Regions from separate parts of the Homo sapiens genome. Here regions 1 and 2 are each linked to region 3. The links come from fine-mapping of genetic effects on gene expression. A gene starts in region 3. Each other region holds a variant in brackets. All regions are shown on one strand. Distances are from middle to middle. Region 1 has its middle 50 kb from the start of USP9X. Region 2 overlaps MED14 (mediator complex subunit 14). Region 3 holds the start of MED14OS (MED14 opposite strand).

Region 1 (2,850 bases), 300 kb after region 3:
TTTAATGCAAAGCTACAATTTCATTGGCAACGGTTCTGTTAAAATGTTCCTCGGTACCTTTTCTGCATTTTTCACAGTGGCACCTTTATGCATTTGAAAAATTTGGACTAAGAAATGCAAATAAATCAGCAACTGTCCTTACCCTTAAAATTATGTGTCTTGCCAGGTACTTACTCTATCTATTACATGATTAAAAACAGTAACCTATAATTCCTTTCCCTAAAAATAAGTGTCAAAGTTATGGTGCTATCACATAGGCAGAGCAAAAATCTTTAAACTTACTAAAATTTGCCGGACATGGTGGCTCACACCTATAATCCCAGCACTCTGGGAGGCTGAGAAAGGAGGATCATTTGAGGCCAGCAGTTCCAGAACAGCCTGGGCAAAAGAGTAAGACCCCATCTCTACAAAAAATAAAATAAATAAGCTAGGCATGGGGGTATGTGCCTGTAGTCCGAACTACTCAAGAGGCTTTGGTGGGAGGATCACTTCCGCCCGGGAGTTCTGGGCTACAGTGAGCTATGATCATGCCACTGCACTCCAGCCTTAGGCAACAGAGTGAGACCCTGTTTGTTTAAAAAAAAAAAAAAAAAGAAAGAAAAGGCCAGGTGCAGTAGCCCACGCCTGTATTCCCAGCACCTTGGGAGGCCAAGGCAGGCGGATCTTGAGGTAAGGAGTTTGAGACCAGCCTGGCCAATGTGGTGAAACCCCATCTCTACTAAAATTACAAAAATTAGCTGGGCATGGTAGTGCATGCCTGTAGTCCCAGCTACTTGGGAAGCTGAGGCAGAAGAATCACTTGAACCCAGGAGGCGAAGGTTGCAGTGAGCCGAGATTGTGCCACTGCACTCCAGCCTGGGCAACAGAGCAAGACTCTGTCTCAAAACAAAACAAAAGTTATCGACTGGATAAAGAAAATGTGGCGCATATACACCATGGAATACTATGCAGCCATAAAAAAGGATGAGTTCATATCCTTTGCAGGGACATGGATGAAGCTAGAAACCATCATTTTCAGCAAAGTAACACTAGAACAGAAAACCAACCACCACATGTTCTCACTCATAACTGGGAGTTGAACAATGAGAACACATGGACACAGGGAGGGGAACATCACACACCGGGGCTGTCAGGGGTGGGGGACAGAGGGAGGGATAGCATTAGGAGAAATACTTAATGTAGATGACAGGTTGATGGGTGCAGCAAACCACCATGGCACATGTATACCTATGTAACAAACCTGCACATTCTGCACATGTACCCCAGAACTTAAAGTATAATTAAAAAAAACAAAATAAAGAAAGAAAAAAAAAGTATTGCTAAATTTTGCTAACATATTGACTAAAGGAGTCATCCATGCAGATAACGTACATCAAAAAGTATAATTATCTTGTATGTTTTAAGACAATCCTTTATTAGTATATAATA[T/C]ATTTTATAATATGTAATTCCATCTGACTTCCTCATACTTGCAGCTAAGAAATGGCCAATTATTAATCCATCTCTGCCACAAGGCTTTATCTTTACCTTGCCAACAAAGGCTTCAGAATCCTTTAGGCTAAAAAGCTAGCAAGTTTAAAAAGCTTTGAGAAATGTTCTTGACACACCCGTGAACACCTGTGAGCTCTAGGTAGGCTCTCTGTGTACATACAAGCTCTGTTCCATTCCAACAACCTGGACAGTAGTAACACATGTAAAAGTGTGCTCTTTGGTGAAATGGAGATTCTGAATTATTCATGGTAGTTTCACCAATAAAATGATCTAATGTGATACTGATTGTTTGTGTTCATATTTTCATTATACTGTATAATCTGGTCTAGAAATGCTTCAAACGTTAGACCTAAATGAAACTACAAAACAAACAAATCAATTTATTACTGGATAGGTCATTGATTAGGTAATTTAGAACATTTACAGAATTTTATCTTATGAAATTGCACCAAGGTCACCAAGCTGCAAAATAAAACTTGTGGGCCAATACAGTAGGCAGAATTCTAGGAGTTCAGGAATCTGCATTAAGTCCCACATATACAGAATAAATTCTATGTAGCTGGGCAAAGAACGATTTCCTTTTTTTTTGTTTTGAGATGGAGTCTTGCTCTGTCGCCCAGGCTGGGGTACAGTGGCACGATCTCTGCTCACTGCAATCTCTGCCTCCCGGGTTCAAGTGATTCTCCTGCCTCAGCCTCCCGAGTAGCTGAGATCACAGGTGTCCACCACCATGCCTGGCTAGTTTTTTGTTTTTTTTTTTTTGAGACAGAGTTTCGCTCTTATTGCCCAGGCTGGAGTGCACTGGCACAATCTCGGCTCACTGCAACCTCTGCTTCCCAGGTTCAAGCGATTCTCCTGCCTCAGCCTCCTGAGTAGCTGGGACCATAGGCATGCACCACCATGCCCTGCTAATTTTGTATTTTTAGTAGAGATGGGTTTTCTCCACATTGGTCAGGCTGGTCTCGAACTCCTGACCTCAGGTGATTCGCCTGCCTTGACCTCCCAAAGTGCTGGAATTATAGGCATGAGCCATCGCGCCCGTCCAATTTTTTGTATTTTTAGTAGAGACAGGGTTTCACCATGTTGGCCAGGCTGGTCTCAAACTCCTGACCACAGGCGATCTGCCCACCTTGGCCTCCCACAGTGCTGGGATTACAGGTGTGAGCCATTGCGCCTGGCCGCAAAGAACGATTTCTACAGAAATAGCTACCAGGAAGTTGTATTCAAACAATTTCCAGAGTTCACACAGGACCAGCGATCTTCCAAGTTTCTACCAAGCTGAGTAAAGAAACTTTGTTGAATAAATTGGGAACTCAGTAGAGACCCCAGAGGCATCACACCTTAGGGGTGTGGCTAACCAAG
Region 2 (2,500 bases), 60 kb before region 3:
CTGCGGATGGTATTTCCATCTCTGGAATCATATAACATCATTTTAAGTGTGTGAATGACCTGAGATTAATGCTGTTTCCAACACTATTCATTTCTTGTCACTGGAAGTCTCCTCGCCTCCTTCTGTAACTCTTTATTTCATAAGTATTTCCTGGGCATCTCAGGCCCACCAAGGACCTCCTTGTCTTTCAATGAAGTCTTGACACCTATAGAACCTGTGAAGTTACAGAAATGTGATACCACTTGGAATTCTGGCTAGATATTACCTGTTGCTGGGGTGGTGGCTGGAGCTGCGATATTAAAGAATCCATCATATCTCCTCCTATAGGAGAAGGGGGATTATCGTCCTCATTTACAGACCTTCTTCGAGCATCCTGATTGCTGTCAACAAACATATTCAGGAACGTCTACGGATATAAACAGGTAAAATTTAGATTATTTTACCTAACATTATTAGTAAAATATTTTAAATTATTTAGAATATTTAAACAGAAACACAGTATGTTGATCCTTGAAGATCGTTACTAGGACAACCTAGAAGAAATATTGTTAATTTTGAAGCGGGAAACTGAGGAAAACAGTTAACAAAAACAGCATCTAAAAAAAGTCATATTGACTAAGAAATATTGTGTGAGCAAAAAGTTGAAGAAAGAAGTACATCCTGGCACCTCTTACCATCAGATCATAATATTTTCTTATTAACTTCTAATCCAGAAATGGGGGTAAAAAATGAAAAGCATATTGGCCATAACTTCAATGACTTGGAAAATTTCCCAGCTAGTGAGCCATCTCACTTTTTAAACTAGAAAATATGAAAGGAAAACTGAGTAAGAAACGATCCAATTTTTTCCTTTTTTATATTATATAATTTAATCTTGAACCATTAAGAGTGGGACAGCCTTGTTTTACATATTGTCAAAACTGAGCAAAGCTATCAGAGTTTGTGTTTCAAGCACAGATTCTCTTTAACACTCCTCACATCCCCAGTATTCGAATATACACATATTTGAATCATAAGCTTATCAGAATCACTAGAGAGCTATTAATAGTCCAT[A/G]GTGGGCTGAGCATGGTGGCTCATGCCTATAATCGCAGCACTTTGGGAGGCCAAGATGGGAGGATCCCTTGCGAGACCAACCTGGGCAATAATGGCAAAACCTCATCTCTACAAAAAATAGAAAAATCAGCCAGGCATGGTGGTGCACACCTGTGGATCCAGCTACTAGGGAGGCTAAGATGGGAGGACTGCTTGAGCCCGGGAAGTTGAGGCTGCAGTGAGCCGTGATCCCACCACTGCGCTCCAGCCTGGGCGACAGAGTGAGACCCTGTCTCAAAAAAGAAGTCTACAGTCTACTTTTAATTAAAGATGATGGGCTCACAACACACATTGCATTCTTTCCCCACTAAACTACTGGAAAGAATTTTTTGAAGCAATAAGTAACAAAGACAAAAAGAATAGGAGAAGAGAAGAAACAGCAATACATCCGGGAGGCTGCAAAGCAGATGGCTGAGTAGCAACTAGAACCATCCAATGTGAGAAAGTTGTATCCTAAGTAAGCTGTGGGAAAAGCCAAGAAGCAAGCTATTTCCATCCAGATCCCTGAGATACTTTGGAACTGGCAGTATCAGGCACTGATATGGTTTGGCTCTGTGTCCCCACCCGAATCTCATCTTGAATTGTAATCGAATTGTAATCCCCGTGTTGAGAGAGGGACCGATTGATTGGATTATGGGGACAGTTCCCCCCATGCTGTTGTGATAGTGAGTTCTCACCAGATCTGATGGTTTTATAAGTAGCAGTTTCCCCTGCTCTCACGCTTCTCCCCTGCAGCCATGTAAGGCGTGCTTGCTTCCCCTTTACCTTCCACCACGATTGTAAATTTCCTGAGGCCTCCTAGCCGTTCTTTCTGTTAAGCTCGTGGAACTGTGAGTCAATTAAACCTCTTTCCTTTATAAATTACCCAGTCTTGGGTAGTATCTTTACAGCAATGTGAAAACAGACTAATATGGGTACCTTTGGAAGTGGGGATAAAAGTGGGACTAATAACAGAAGGACTAAGTGAAAGTCTAAGAGACACTTAGACCCTCCCAGATCCTCTGCTATTCTCACTGAGCTCGGTTATCTCTTCCACCATGGAGGAGGATCTCTGACTTGAGGGATGCCAAAGACCAACTCAGAGAAGGACTACTATATAAAAAATGGGGATCAAAGTCTACATAAATTTGAGAATACTCGTTTTTTCATTTGACTTTCCCAATATTGAAAGCAAGATGCATACCATCTATGCAGAAGATTTGGATACTCCTGTCTTGGTACTCACACCAGCCCAACAAAAAGACCTAAAGCTACTGATATCGGGAGTTTCCCAAAGAAATGGCCCAAGGAGATCATCCTGCAATGAAGACCACAGTCAATAAGTCTTACCTTTAAATAAGAGCAGAGAGTTAAGAATCGCTTAACATTTGAGGAAAGACACTAATATAAAAGAAATCAATACCACACC
Region 3 (2,801 bases):
ACTTTTTCTGAACCTGGGTTATAAGATGTACAACAGAGTCCCAAAATGTTACGGTGCCTTTTCTTCACACACTGAAATTCGTTAGTATATTCTGATCCTATTCTGAAGGGATTAACAACTTAATCATGCCCCAAGGCATTTCATGGGTAACTAGGTGATTTATAAACCCCCTTCATACTCCAAGAAATAACAGACTACTTACAAAAAAATTTTACTCACACTAACTTCATTAAGACCTCAAACACTCAAAAGTTCCAGAAAAAAAGTACTTTGAATTCAAATTTGTATTTTATACACAACGTATGTAGCTCCTGCATTAACTTAGAAGCAATAACAGCTTACATTTAAAACGTATCGTCAAGAGGCTGTAATACAAATTTCCCATCTATAGAGTTTTTTCTAAAAGCTCGAATATTATGTATTCCAGCCAAGAAATCAAGAGAGTTCTGTTGGGAACTCGGACAAAAATTTCACACAATTTTCAGTGGAAGTGTAACAACACGCAAAATTAACAAGTCTCTGTTGCATCGTTGCCAGGAAGACCCCAGATACAAAGCTTCTTCTCCACCTCTGCTGAACCCCAGGAGTTCAAAAATTCTAGACTAAGCAGTCCAGCGGAGAACACAGCAGCCTCTCGGGGAGAGGGAGGTGCAAACGTCTCAGCCGGTTGGGCGGGAAGGGGGGCTGGGGAACAGGCAGGGGTTTCGGGGCACTTACAGGTCCGTCAACACCATAAGCTCCGAGTAGGCCCGGTGCAGCAGAAATTCAATGAGGGTGCTCAGCCGGTAGCCCGGGCTAGCCGCAGCTGCAGCGGCCGCCGCCACGGCGGCTCCCGGGGGAGGAGGGGCTGGGGCTGACGGGGGTCCGCCGCTGCCCCCGCCGCCGCCTCCGGGCGGGACCAGCTGGTGGTTCTCCAGCTGCACTGGGGCCATGGCGGCGCAGGACCGGGCTTGGCGCAACGGCACACGATGCGGTCCTCGAGCCTCCCGGGCGCTCGGTCACCGCGCCGAAACGGGAGCGGGCAGAGTCGCCACCGCCTACCGCCGGGCCGCCTCAGAACAGGAAGCCGTGCGCCGACCGCGGAAGCCCGCCCCCATGTAGCGAGAAGTCCGCCGACCCCAGGGACAGGAGCGAGGGGCGGGGGGAGGCGGGGATGGGGGGGAAGCAGGGCGGCCCCGCAGAGGGGAAGCTGCGCCTCCGCAAACGCTCAGAAGCAGCTTCGCCAGACAGCCGCAACGTACATGTTGACTGCCCGAGGCGGAAGTCGATCGGCAGAGCGGAAGGGGGACCTGCAGAGGACCTTCCGACAGGTCTGTGTCTGTTCTCTCAGCTGTCTAGCACCGCAGCGCTGGGGGGCGCGTGGGAGTGAGGCGGTACCTGTGAGCGCGCGGGAGAGCGGAAAAGGGAGCCGCGCGCCGCCGGAAACCAGGGTGAGGGCTGAGCCGGAGTCGTCACCGGGAACGTCAGCAGTTGCCCCGCCCTTACCCTCGCCGCTCTCCCTCCCGCCTCCGCCCCCTGGCGTTGTAAAGGCGACAATTTGCCCAGAGAAATCCACCATCGCTTCCTAAGTGGGGCACAAACACAGCCAGGGGAGGCCTCCTCTAAATGTTCGTGAATTCTGGTTCTGGAATCGCGAAGAAATGGGAGCGGCCGCGCGCTTGTGATTCTCAGGCCTTTGCTCCTCCCATACACGTCCACGGCGCGTTACGTGGGAGAACGTTTTCGCCCCTTTTTTTTTTTTTCCAAACTGTGGGAAAAGGTGCTAGAAAATATGATTGCGGGTAGAGACAGGGCCGCTGGCAGAGTAACTCAATTTTAATAGAGTCGGGTGTATGCTGAGGTCGTCACCATCCCCCAAATCCTGTCAGTCCCACACAAAAACGGCCCTTAAATCCCCTGCCACGGGCTCTCATATAGTTTTTGTCCTTGCTCTTGCAGTCACCGCTCTATTCTGAAGGGCTTTTCAGTTCATCCATGCCTACCGACACTCCCGTCCCCCCCATCAAAGTCCACGTTTAATTTTTTGTACCTGCTTTAAAACAGCGATTCTCAACCTTGGCTGCACTTTGCAATTATCTGAGGAGCTGTTTTTTAAAAAAATACTTAGATATATGGGTTCCACCCCTGTAGATTCAGATTTAATTGGTCTGGCTTGAGGTCTGGGCTTGGGGAATTTTTGAACTTTCCTAAGGTGATTCTAACATGCCCTAACGTAGAGATTCACTATTAGAAGCATTCGTTGCTGCGACCCCTTTCAAACATCTTTTTGCAGTTTCATCTCCTCTTGGTGTAAGAGATGTTCATGATGTTCCCTAAGGTTAGAATATTCTTACTGTCATCACTTGGGTAATTCTTTATCATTGTTGAAAGCGGTTCATCTGCTTCTGAAGGTGTAAGCTCACTTGTTCCCTCCCTTGGTGGTCCTAAAGCACATTGAAACAGAATATCATTGTGCTAGTTATTAAAATGCATTGGGATTATTTATACCCCTTACAGATACAGTTGCTGGAAGGCAGCTACCTTATTTTTAAATATTATTTTTATTTTTAATTGATAGTATATACTTATGGCATACAATGTGATGTTTTGAAACATGTAACCATTGTGGAATGAGCAAATCAGGCTATTAACATCTATCAAATGATATACATACTTACTTCTTTTGGTGAGAACATTTAAAATCCACTTTTAGCAACTTTGGAAGATACAAAAGGTTATTGCTAATTGTAGTCACATTGCTGTGCAATAGATCACCAGAACTTATTCCGCCTATCTAACTGAAACTTTGTACCCTTTGACTA

Evidence for each region. PIP is the estimated chance that this variant, and not a neighbour inherited with it, causes the effect.
Region 1: its variant is fine-mapped to the expression of MED14OS in sigmoid colon (GTEx, PIP 0.99).
Region 2: its variant is fine-mapped to the expression of MED14OS in whole blood (TOPMed, PIP above 0.99).

What each region holds. Positions count from the first base shown.
Region 1 is chrX:41,034,170-41,037,019 of GRCh38, forward strand. No RefSeq gene overlaps it. Among named protein-coding and RNA genes, the nearest start is that of USP9X, 50 kb to the right of the region's middle. The variant T/C (reference allele first, on the strand shown) is at 1,429.
Region 2 is chrX:40,674,956-40,677,455 of GRCh38, forward strand. MED14 (mediator complex subunit 14) reads right to left here. Exons shown (of 31, transcript NM_004229.4): 22 at 266-406. Among named protein-coding and RNA genes, the nearest start is that of CXorf38, 29 kb to the left of the region's middle. RefSeq lists a silencer at 1,151-1,302. The variant A/G (reference allele first, on the strand shown) is at 1,054.
Region 3 is chrX:40,734,481-40,737,281 of GRCh38, forward strand. It overlaps MED14OS (MED14 opposite strand), which reads left to right and starts at 1,210. Exons shown (of 2, transcript NR_169211.1): 1 at 1,210-1,310. MED14 (mediator complex subunit 14) reads right to left here and starts at 1,062. Exons shown (of 31, transcript NM_004229.4): 1 at 718-1,062. The coding sequence starts at 932. RefSeq lists enhancers at 432-1,353, 1,354-2,274 and silencers at 670-1,049, 1,310-1,399.